Linked DNA regions of Homo sapiens: region 2 is linked to region 1. The links come from fine-mapping of genetic effects on gene expression. Tissue or cell type: whole blood. Region 1 holds a variant in brackets; the other region holds the start of a gene. All regions are shown on one strand. Distances are from middle to middle.

The links. PIP is the estimated chance that this variant, and not a neighbour inherited with it, causes the effect.
Region 2: it holds the start of CALHM6-AS1, and the variant in region 1 is fine-mapped to the expression of CALHM6-AS1 in whole blood (INTERVAL, PIP above 0.99).

Annotation. Positions count from the first base shown.
Region 1 is chr6:116,558,339-116,564,034 of GRCh38, reverse strand. CALHM4 (calcium homeostasis modulator family member 4) reads right to left here. Exons shown (of 2, transcript NM_001366078.2): 2 at 2,908-5,696. Among named protein-coding and RNA genes, the nearest start is that of CALHM4, 7.4 kb to the right of the region's middle. The variant T/C (reference allele first, on the strand shown) is at 3,851.
Region 2 is chr6:116,461,564-116,465,563 of GRCh38, reverse strand. CALHM6-AS1 (CALHM6 antisense RNA 1) reads left to right here and starts at 1,860. Exons shown (of 2, transcript NR_174951.1): 1 at 1,860-1,945. CALHM6 (calcium homeostasis modulator family member 6) reads right to left here. Exons shown (of 3, transcript NM_001010919.3): 2 at 3,110-3,692; 3 at 1,793-2,281. The coding sequence starts at 3,634. The coding sequence ends at 1,859. RefSeq lists a silencer at 3,124-3,203 and enhancers at 3,584-3,663, 3,674-3,783.

The DNA.
Region 1 (5,696 bases):
CCTCGCCGGCTCCAGGGCTGCAGGTGGGAGCTGGCACTTCCAGCTAGAACACCCCGGCATGCCATGCTGTGGGAAGAGGGTCGAAGAGTGTAGGGATGTGGGGAAGGGAAGAAACGGGTCCCCGCAGTCTGGTCTGGCTCAGGGCACCCCATGCCAATGAGCCCCAGACAATTTCCTAGAAGGAGCTCAAAACATCAGGCTCCCTGATGGCGCGCAGTACTGAATCGCATATTAAATTATTATTCTAGCTCTGCCAGTAATAACTTGGATGAATTTTGCTTTTTGCATTATCTTCCCCATGAAATATAAACCTGTCTCACAGGACAGCATAGGATCTATTAAATCATCATTGGACTAAAGATGCTTATTTTGTAGGCAGCTTTTCCAAATTCAAGTTATTTCAACATGAAAGAATGACGGCAGGCATAAACTTATCAATAATAGGTCACCTATTATCGACTTATGAAATTTGTGCAATCAATAAAACACCATGTAGATCCAGAGATTGATTGATTGTGCTTTCACATTTGCTTTCTCACATTTGAAATGCTAGCATATGTCTACATTATGAAATAATTTATAGTAAATAGTTCTGTTGATGCCACTAACTGACAACTACAGAAGAAAAATATATTTAAATGTTTATTTGCAGCTTAAGGTAAAACATCCACAAATGCCTATGAAGTTTATATTCAGCTCTTTCTGCACTTTAGCACACTGTAAAATATTAGAGCACATTGTATTTTATTCATAAAATATTATATTATAGATATATTTGTTTTCCAGGAGCAACAGTTTTGCCCAAGGCAGAGTGTCAGCACATATAGAATCAGGATGCTTGTGTTAGAAATGACCTAGAGGTCTTAATCCAGGGAGTCTCATTCAACAGGCTTGTGGGCTCATAAGCTCCTGAAGTGTATTGGCTTGTATATTAGCTTCCTATTGCCACTGTAACAAATTACCACAAATTTAGTGTTTAAAACACTGCAAATGTATTATTTTATAGTTCTGTAACTAAAAGAACAGTATGTAGTTACTACTTTTCTGGCACAGGTCAGACACAGCTCTGAGCAGGCTAAAAGCAAAGTGTCAGCAGAGCTGTGTTCCTTCTGGAGGCTCTTGGAGAGAGTCCATTTCCTGGCTTTTTCCAGTTTCTAGGGACTGCCCACATTCTTTAGCTCATGACCCCCTTATCTTCAAAGCCAGCAATGGCTGATAGAGTCTTTCTCAAGCTGCGTAACTCCGACATTTTTTGACACTCCTTTTCTGTTGTCACTTTGCCTTCTCTCTGACTCGGATTCCTCCTACAGTCCTTTTATAAGCACCCTTGTGATTACATTGGGCCCACCTAGAAAATCCAGGATTATATCTTCACATCTCAAAATCCTTACCTTGATCTATCTGCAAAGTCTCTTTTGCCATATTGAGTCACATTCACAGGTTCCAGGGATAAGCATATGGACATCCTCAGGGAGCCATTATTTAGCCTACCACGGTATTGAGAACTCTGAGGTATGTGAGCTGGTGTCTATGTGTATGTACTGGATATGTCCTCAGAACAGCTTCCCCAGAATGGCTCGTCAAAGGGGTCTGTGATTCAAAATGGTTTAATCAACCACCTTTGCAATTTAACCACCCTCTCCTTTCTCGTGGAGGGGAAAATTGAAGTCCCAGAGAGGCTGGCTTGTGCAAGACAACATAAATGATAGGAGATGGTGTTTTCCTGATCCCTGTTTTGACACTTCATAACTATGGCCTACTGAAAATAAATGGACAGATTACAGTAGTGCCATGCCCATGCCATGCATGAGAAAGAGAATACCTGATACTCCAGAGCAGGTTTGTTGTTAGTCTGCGGCTAATAGAATCAGTGCCACTGGCTGTTGGGGAGATCAGGTCCAATGTTATGCCCCAGTGAGAGTGGACAGGTCACTTTGCTAAGAAGCATAGTGCCTTGAAAGTGGGCCCTGATGTATGCAGGTATGATTTAGGTGGAAAGAGAGCGACTTACGTGATATGGCAACACACGGTCAGAGCCCAGGATGTTTCAGTTATTCATCGACAGAAGTATTAGGGATATCCTCCTAACACCTACAAGGCCTTGGAAGATTGATAACGTACCTCATTGCTGTATTCCAGCACAGTGCTGCAGAGTGCAGGGTCCAGGGGTGGATTCTGGCTTCAACCCTTACGTGACCCTTGGCACATTGCTTGATTTCTCTGTATCTCAATTACTTCTCTGTATCTCAGTTACTCAATGAATTAATAAAGAATTAATGTTATTTAATATCATTTCAGCAAGTTACTTTCTAATGGGTGACTATTTGTCACGTGTCCAAAGGTGTAACTAGGATAATTTGTTAAAAGTTACTGGCATACAGAGAGCACTACTTGTTTTTGCTACTACTACTGTCACCACAGATGGGTGCAGACACCTGTTTTGACCACTGGGTGGCAGCAGAGGAAACCATACTTGAAATCCATGCGTTTTGTTTTGTTCCTGAAGTTCTGGTATACTGAAATTACAGAAGCTTAATCATACTTGGTTGTTACTGCAGAAAAATAATCAGGTCAGGAATACTACAGTTTGCCTCTCTGGAAATACCATTTATTGCTCTTCGGTCCAGACGTCACATTTATGGATTTACGCCCCCCAGCTCAAGAAGCCAGTTGCGTAGCAGTCTACGCTCTTCAGCCTGCCAGTATCTGTTCTTTATTGACTGGTACTAAATTTCTGTAGACTCTATTTAGAAGTTAAAGTTGTATCTCCACACCTTATGTTTTCAAGATAGCAAATATCTACCTAGTCTTGCATTCAGAAGGCCTTTGGTTGGCCATGATACTTCAAACTTTTATAGGATTAATGTGATGTCCCTTTGTGATACAAACCAAATGCAAGAAAACAACTAGCAAAATCTCACTGTTGTTTATTACAATCATGCATTAGAATTTCTACAAAAAATGAATGGAAGACTGAGAACAGAGAAAAGAGACACAGAGAAGGACAGAGTATAAATGCGGTTCTACAATTCAGCTTTGGAAAACATAAAGAAAGCTGAGTAAAACACATTTACACATTGGTTTGTATTTGTCTCCTGGGAAGGTGGCAACTTAGGTCATGATGGGACCGTGGAGGAGCTAATGAAATTAAGAAAGGAGCAGGTTTATATATGTCAAGCTCCAGGGTTTGATGTGGTAGCCAAAAGCATTTGGTAGCAAAATATAAAGTAGTATTAGCACATAATTGACTTTAATTATATGTTTTATAATTACATAAATCCATTAAGCATAAAGGGGAGGGAGTACCATGTTCTTAATGAAAAAGTTTCATTTAACTAGCTGTGGAGCAAAAAAATGCTATAGACCATAGCCCCCCCCCCCCCCAAAATACTAAAAATTCCATTTATTTGATCTGAGATAGATAATGTACTGTAAGATGAAATCCCAGGGGTGTGTACTACCTTTTAAATGTTCACATAGATGCTATAAATCATTCTGAAGCCATGTAGAAGAGCCAACGAATACTTAGAATCCTTTGCCAGAAAGTTATAGGGGAAGATCATGATTAACTGGCTCAAAATATAAAATTTTTACATCATACACTAAAAGAGTTTGATGTAGAAGGGCTTCAGAAGCTAGTGGAAATAGTTTCCTGGTATTAGGGTATAAACAACTATTAATCTTCTTTCTGATGATGTAATGCTATAACTTCAAATATTCTTTGATTTTGTTGTTAACCGAAAATCTTATTGAAGAGTCTTTACTGTGGTATAGTTCCTGACAACTAATAAACTAATTCTGAGCATGGTTGAAAGTGTTCATTTAACTAGTATGTTCCAATACAGAAGAA[T/C]ATAAAAAATTATCAGTTATATAGGAACAGAATTTTAGAACTGGAGCAGACCTTAGGGAACAAAATGGATGTGACATTCCATATTTACACAGTTCATTTGTATCAGTGTGGAACTAGAACCCTAGTTGCCTTCCACAACATACTTCTATTTGTATTTTTAACATCCTTCATGTAATGTCATATCAGTACTGAGTGTAGAGTTAGTAGACAAACTGGAATGGCTTTCCTTGATGACTTGAAAAAGATCAGTACATTAACATTCTTTTAAAAGTGGAATGCCAGTAAATGTTTTCAGAGAAAGCTCAGATTCAGAGTTGGGGACATTTTCCTTCCAAGAGAAGCAACGTGGGTCTACTACCATTTCAGAAAGATGTATGCATATTGACCTGTATATATATATAAACATAAACATAAAAATCGTACTTGATGTAAAAGAGACCTTAAGCAGTTATTTAGTTCAGTTATTTTCTTCCAAGAGGTAAAATATTATCATCCCTTTTATTGTATAGATGAAAAAAATCCAGGGTCCAGAGAGATGGACTGATTTGTCCAAGGTCAAATGACAGATGAGTAATGGTGAGGGCAGGACAGTTCTCCTGTCCCAGCAAAGAGCTACAATATGCAGTCTCTTATTGAAGGACAAAACAAAACCTGAAAACATTTTGATTTCTTAAAAATTCATTTTCTGCTTCTTCCTATTAAGTTCAAGGACCCAGAACTTTATAGAAAATAAAACCTTCCATAATTGTGTAAAAGTAGATTACCAAGTAATTGATTGCATTTTAGATAGTATAGTCAAGTTCCTTGGTCTCCTTGAAAGTGAATCTTGAAAATTGGATTGACTATTGGCAGTTGGTCCACTGTCCAGTAAGCATTGTTTTGACTGAAGAAATAAATAGACAGAATGCCCTCAGACAACTTATTTTTGCTAATGAGCAAGTTGCTTCAGTGAACGTAGCAAAAATCAGGCACGAGTCACTATATATCACAGAAATAATCTAGATAAATTAGAAAATTGTCCAGATACTGTAGGCTGCATTTAGTAAAGCCAGGCAGAGCAACACCAAGCAGGAATTATCCTCTTTTGTAGTTACAGATAATGGATATACAAGTACAGACTGCAGTTTTGGTTTCACAAATGGATTTTGAGTGCAAAGGTGCAATTTGGTAATGAAAAGGTACAAATGGTATCTCTGGAGTAGAGCACAGTGGAGAAGCTTTCTAGAAGAAACTTTATATGTAGTGGCCATAAAAATGCTCCTAGTATGGAGGTGCTACAAATAACATGATACTAATAATGATAAATAATATATCATTGTCCCCAGGTTATAGTACAGTAACTCAAGAGCTTCCTGCATGGGCTTCTCCCTCACATGTTACTGGATTAGAAAGAGGTTTCTGTCCTGCTTCCCAAAAGGTCAGATATTTAGGTCTGAAGAAAGAGGGGGAGGCTGTGAAAAGTTCTGGACATTATATAAAGGTAGAAACTGATAAAACCAGAAAATAGAGGCAGGGAAAATGGTGAATAGAAGACATGGAATGCAAAAGAGAAAGAGAGAAAGTAACATTCATTAGCATCTATTTTTATGAAAGACACTGTGCTAAACACTTTGTATTATCATGTTTAATTCTCATAATAGCTCTAGGAGGTAGCTACAATGTGCAGATGACAAAATGGCACTCAGAAATATTAATTTTCACACAGCTACTAAGTAACAGAACTAAGATGCAAATTTCCATGTGACTTCACATTCCACTCTAGGCATTACCAGACCATTGGCAAAATTTCAAAATGAGAGATTGGCACAATTATCTAATAGATTGATTTTAGAAATAATATTTGAGA
Region 2 (4,000 bases), 98 kb after region 1:
CACTTGAGTCAGGGAGGCAGAGTTTGCGGTGAGCCAAGATCTTGCCACTACACTCCAGCCTGGGTGACAGAGTGAGATCCTGTCTCAGACGAAAAAGGAAGCAGCAATTGGAAAATGAAATAAAGGAAGTAAAAATGAAACTAGGTATGATATGATTTTCAAAAGCATTCTTTTAGGGAATGAAAAAAAGCTGATCACGCTGTTTCTGCTGCCAACTTTCTTGTTACGCATGACTCTCAACAACAGGATATTCTGCCCTGTAGGTTAGTTCTTTTTAACGGCCTTATGCAGAAAAAGGTAAACAGAAATCAGCATAAGCTTCTGCCAAAAGAGGAAGAAGGGCTAAATATGACCAGTGCTCAATTATTTTATAGTTTAAAGTTTTTTTATCTCATATTTTAAAATTCAGAAAACAGCCACAAATTTGGGGAATGGGCAGGAATGACAAGCTAATGGAAGGCAAGGATCGCTGAAAAGTCCCGGCATTATAAAGTTACAGAATTTTATCCGTAGATATAATTGCTCTCACCGTCTTTAGAGACTTTCTATCAACAAATCCTGCCACATCTATGTACAAAGTCTACCTTGAATCTATCTACTTTTTCCATTTTGGTCCCCATCCACTCAGTTCAAGTTCACTCCCACCTATTTCCACTGTAGTGGCCTCCTGATTAGTCTCTCTCCTTCTACCCTGGCTCTCCTGCTTCCCATGTCATTCCTTTTCTCTCAAGGAAAGCAAACCATCTTCCTAAAATGCTCATATGATGAAAACCAAAATCCTTCTCATGGTTTCCAGGCACTGCACACTCAGTCCCTTGCTCATTTTTTTCAGTCGCCTTTCAGGTTTCCAACTCTGCTAACATCTTTTTCTCCCTAGTCTTTGCACATACTGTTCCTTCAGTAGGACTGAAATGCTCCTTCTTGCTACCCTACAGGATTCAGTTTTCAAAAAGTTTCCTCAAATCCCTTCTCCCCTAATCTAAATCAGGTCACAATTTGCATTTCTTTGTATGGTATTGGTTTTATCTGTATGACTGAAATGCTCCTTCTTGCTACCCTACAGGATTCAGTTTTTAAAAAGCTTCCCCAAATCCCTTCTCCCCTAATCTAAATCAGGTCACAATTTGCATTTATTTGTTTGGTATTGGTTTTATCTGACTTCCCAACTCTGTTGAAGCTGTGTAACAACTACTTGGAGGCTCATAAAACTATCCTCTCTACTTTTGTGTTTAGTTTATATTTACCATAACATATAAGCTTTAACACTTTTCCTCTGATCCTATAAACTAAAAACAACACTTGTTGCCTGCAATTCTCTTAACTACTTTTTCAAATTTCGTATTTTACAAAGTTTATTTTCCTTTTCATGATTAATTTATTATTGTAACCCTATTAGAGTCATAAAATGCTCTAATTTTTGAATGACCACAGCAGGCTCGACTAGAAGCCCAATGTGCCATCAATTGTGCTATAGAACCAGCTAGAATGCCGTAATTTTAAAGTTCCTAACAAGATGTTGTGGGCAAGAAAATGAACTTGAAATTAACATCAGATAACCTAACAGAAATGTCTGAAGTTCAATTGTTCTGCCACTGTTTTTGCTCCAAAAGTCTTTTATTTGAAAAGGACTCTAGAACAAGGATATAAGACTTCTTTTAGTTCTAGCTTTTACTTTGGATGAATCACTTTCTTTTTTTGTTTGTTTTAAATAATATTATAAAGAGGTTAAGCTCTATATTTTAATTTCAGATATAAAATTCCACAATTTGGAAGAAAAAAAGCACTCAAAAAATACCAATGTTTATTTTTTAATAAAGCAATAATTCAAAACAATTTTTTTTTCTACTCATTCAAAAGGTCATAACTCAGGAGTGCTGTTTATACCAGATGAATCTACAAAGCCAAGAACAGGAATCACCGTATCTCCTTCAGTAGACCTGATACTGTGAGTCTTCTCTTTTCTGTTGACATATTTGTGCAACATGCTGTAGTACTGGCCCTTCGGATTGAAAGTATACAGTGATGAAATTTGCTGCCACTCTTTCATGCTTGGAGTGTTATATTCTTTTGGATGCGAGCCCTCAAAGAAACATTTAATATTCTCTTTTGCCAATTCAGTTGCATGCTCTGTGGCTTTACTTTTAAGGATCTGCTGCTCCTGTTCCAAATAGATTTTCCAGAATTTCAGCTGCAGAAAACTAACTGGAGATAGGCATCGGGTGACAGATGTAAAAATCAGAAGAATGATGATAACAACTGCTATCAAGATCCAGCCCAACACCTTAAGAAAACACAACAAAATAGTAATTTAGTTACTTGGTTTTTTACAAGAAATTTAAAAATCCTCAGATAAAGTTTCAACTACTCGCCAGTTATGATGATGAACAAGCAACAGTTTTAGGTCTTAATTCCTTAAGAGTAAGGTGTCGCAGTAACCTCCCTAGCCCCCCAGTACAACTTCTCGTTTGGAAAGTCAACTGTAGTCCAAGTTATGCACTATGATTCTGCCCAGGGAGGAGCCCATACCATTCCCTTAGAACTCAAAATGTGGAATTTCTGCAAATCCTGGGAAAGAAGTGTTCATTTTAAAGAACCTCTGAGCTTTCTAAGTCCAGTGGTGGCTTTAGAGCCAGACAAACCCATTTTATTCTATAGACCCCTTTAATTCTAACAATTCTGCTTTCTATTGGCTGGGCAAACAACTTTACTTAGACTCAGTGAAGTCACTATATAGGGGAGATACGAAACTATTACTTGTAATGGCAAAACCGCAATTTTGCACCCAACAGAGCTGTTGTGAGACGTAAAAATAATGCAGGAGGTCAAGGGCCTAGCGCAGTATCTGGCACTGAGTAGGCGTGCCCACTCTCACTCCCACTTTCCACGATTCATGTACAGTGCCAGATACTACGGGAATGCGTTTTTCTCCTTTTCATTCGTTTTATTCAGATATTCTCTTGACGGCAAATTAGATGCAAGGAGCCATTCTAGATTTTCTTAGGGTACTGTATATCTGGAGAAAAGTCACCGATTTTTCCCTCACCCCAGCGGCCCTGAGAAAGCTCGGCCTCTCGGCTCCTCCCAAACGCCCCCAGCGCCAGCGGCAGACCTGCGACTGAGCCTTCAGATCCTTCAGGAGGTCCTGCACGTCCGACGCCTTGGCCTGGTTGCACGGCACCAGCGGCAGCTCCGCGGCGCAGCTGCGGTTGCGGCCGAGGCACAGGCGCTGCGCGAAGGCCGCGCTCCCGGTGGCCGCGCACTCGTAAAAGGCGCCCCCGAGCAGCGCCACGGCCACCCAGGTGAGGGGCGCGAGCGCGGCGGCCGCGCTGATTTGCGTGCACACCAGGGAGCCGCGCAGCGCCGATCCGCAACTCGCGCGGGCGCTGGAGCAGCATCCGGTGAGCAGGCGCCACGTGCGTGCGCTCAGCACGTAGCCCAGGAGGAAGAGCGCGAGCGCCGGCACCAGCAAGAAGACCAGGCCGTAGGGCAGGTTCCAGGCGGCGCTGCACGGGCACTGGAATGCCACGGCGGAGAAGATGCGCTCCCCGCCCGCCGTCAGCAGGGTCACCAGGCCGTAGCCCAAGGCGCTGTGGTGCTTGACGTGCAGGTCCAGCACCGCCCGAAACTTCTCCATGAGCCTCGTCCCCCGGGGCGTCGCGCACAGGCCCAGATCCTTCTGCCTCTTCGTTGTCCTGCTTGTCAAATGGTTTTGGTGGGATGGGGACCGGGGCTTTCCACTCTGCGAGAAGCAGCCTTTTTTTTTTTTTTTTTAAAGGGAAGAGGGCTTCTCAGACCTTCCTAAAGTTTCACTTTCTCATTTCAGCCACACCACCTCTGGTTAACAGAACCAGGCAAGCAAACACCCCCAGGACCTTGACTTCTCTGGCACCCACCCCATTCCAAAGGCAGAGGCACCAGTTATCTTCCTCCCCCAATTCAGGAACTCTGACAGAAGGTTGACCTTGTTCCTTTATTACCACCAATCTGACAACGAACCAGG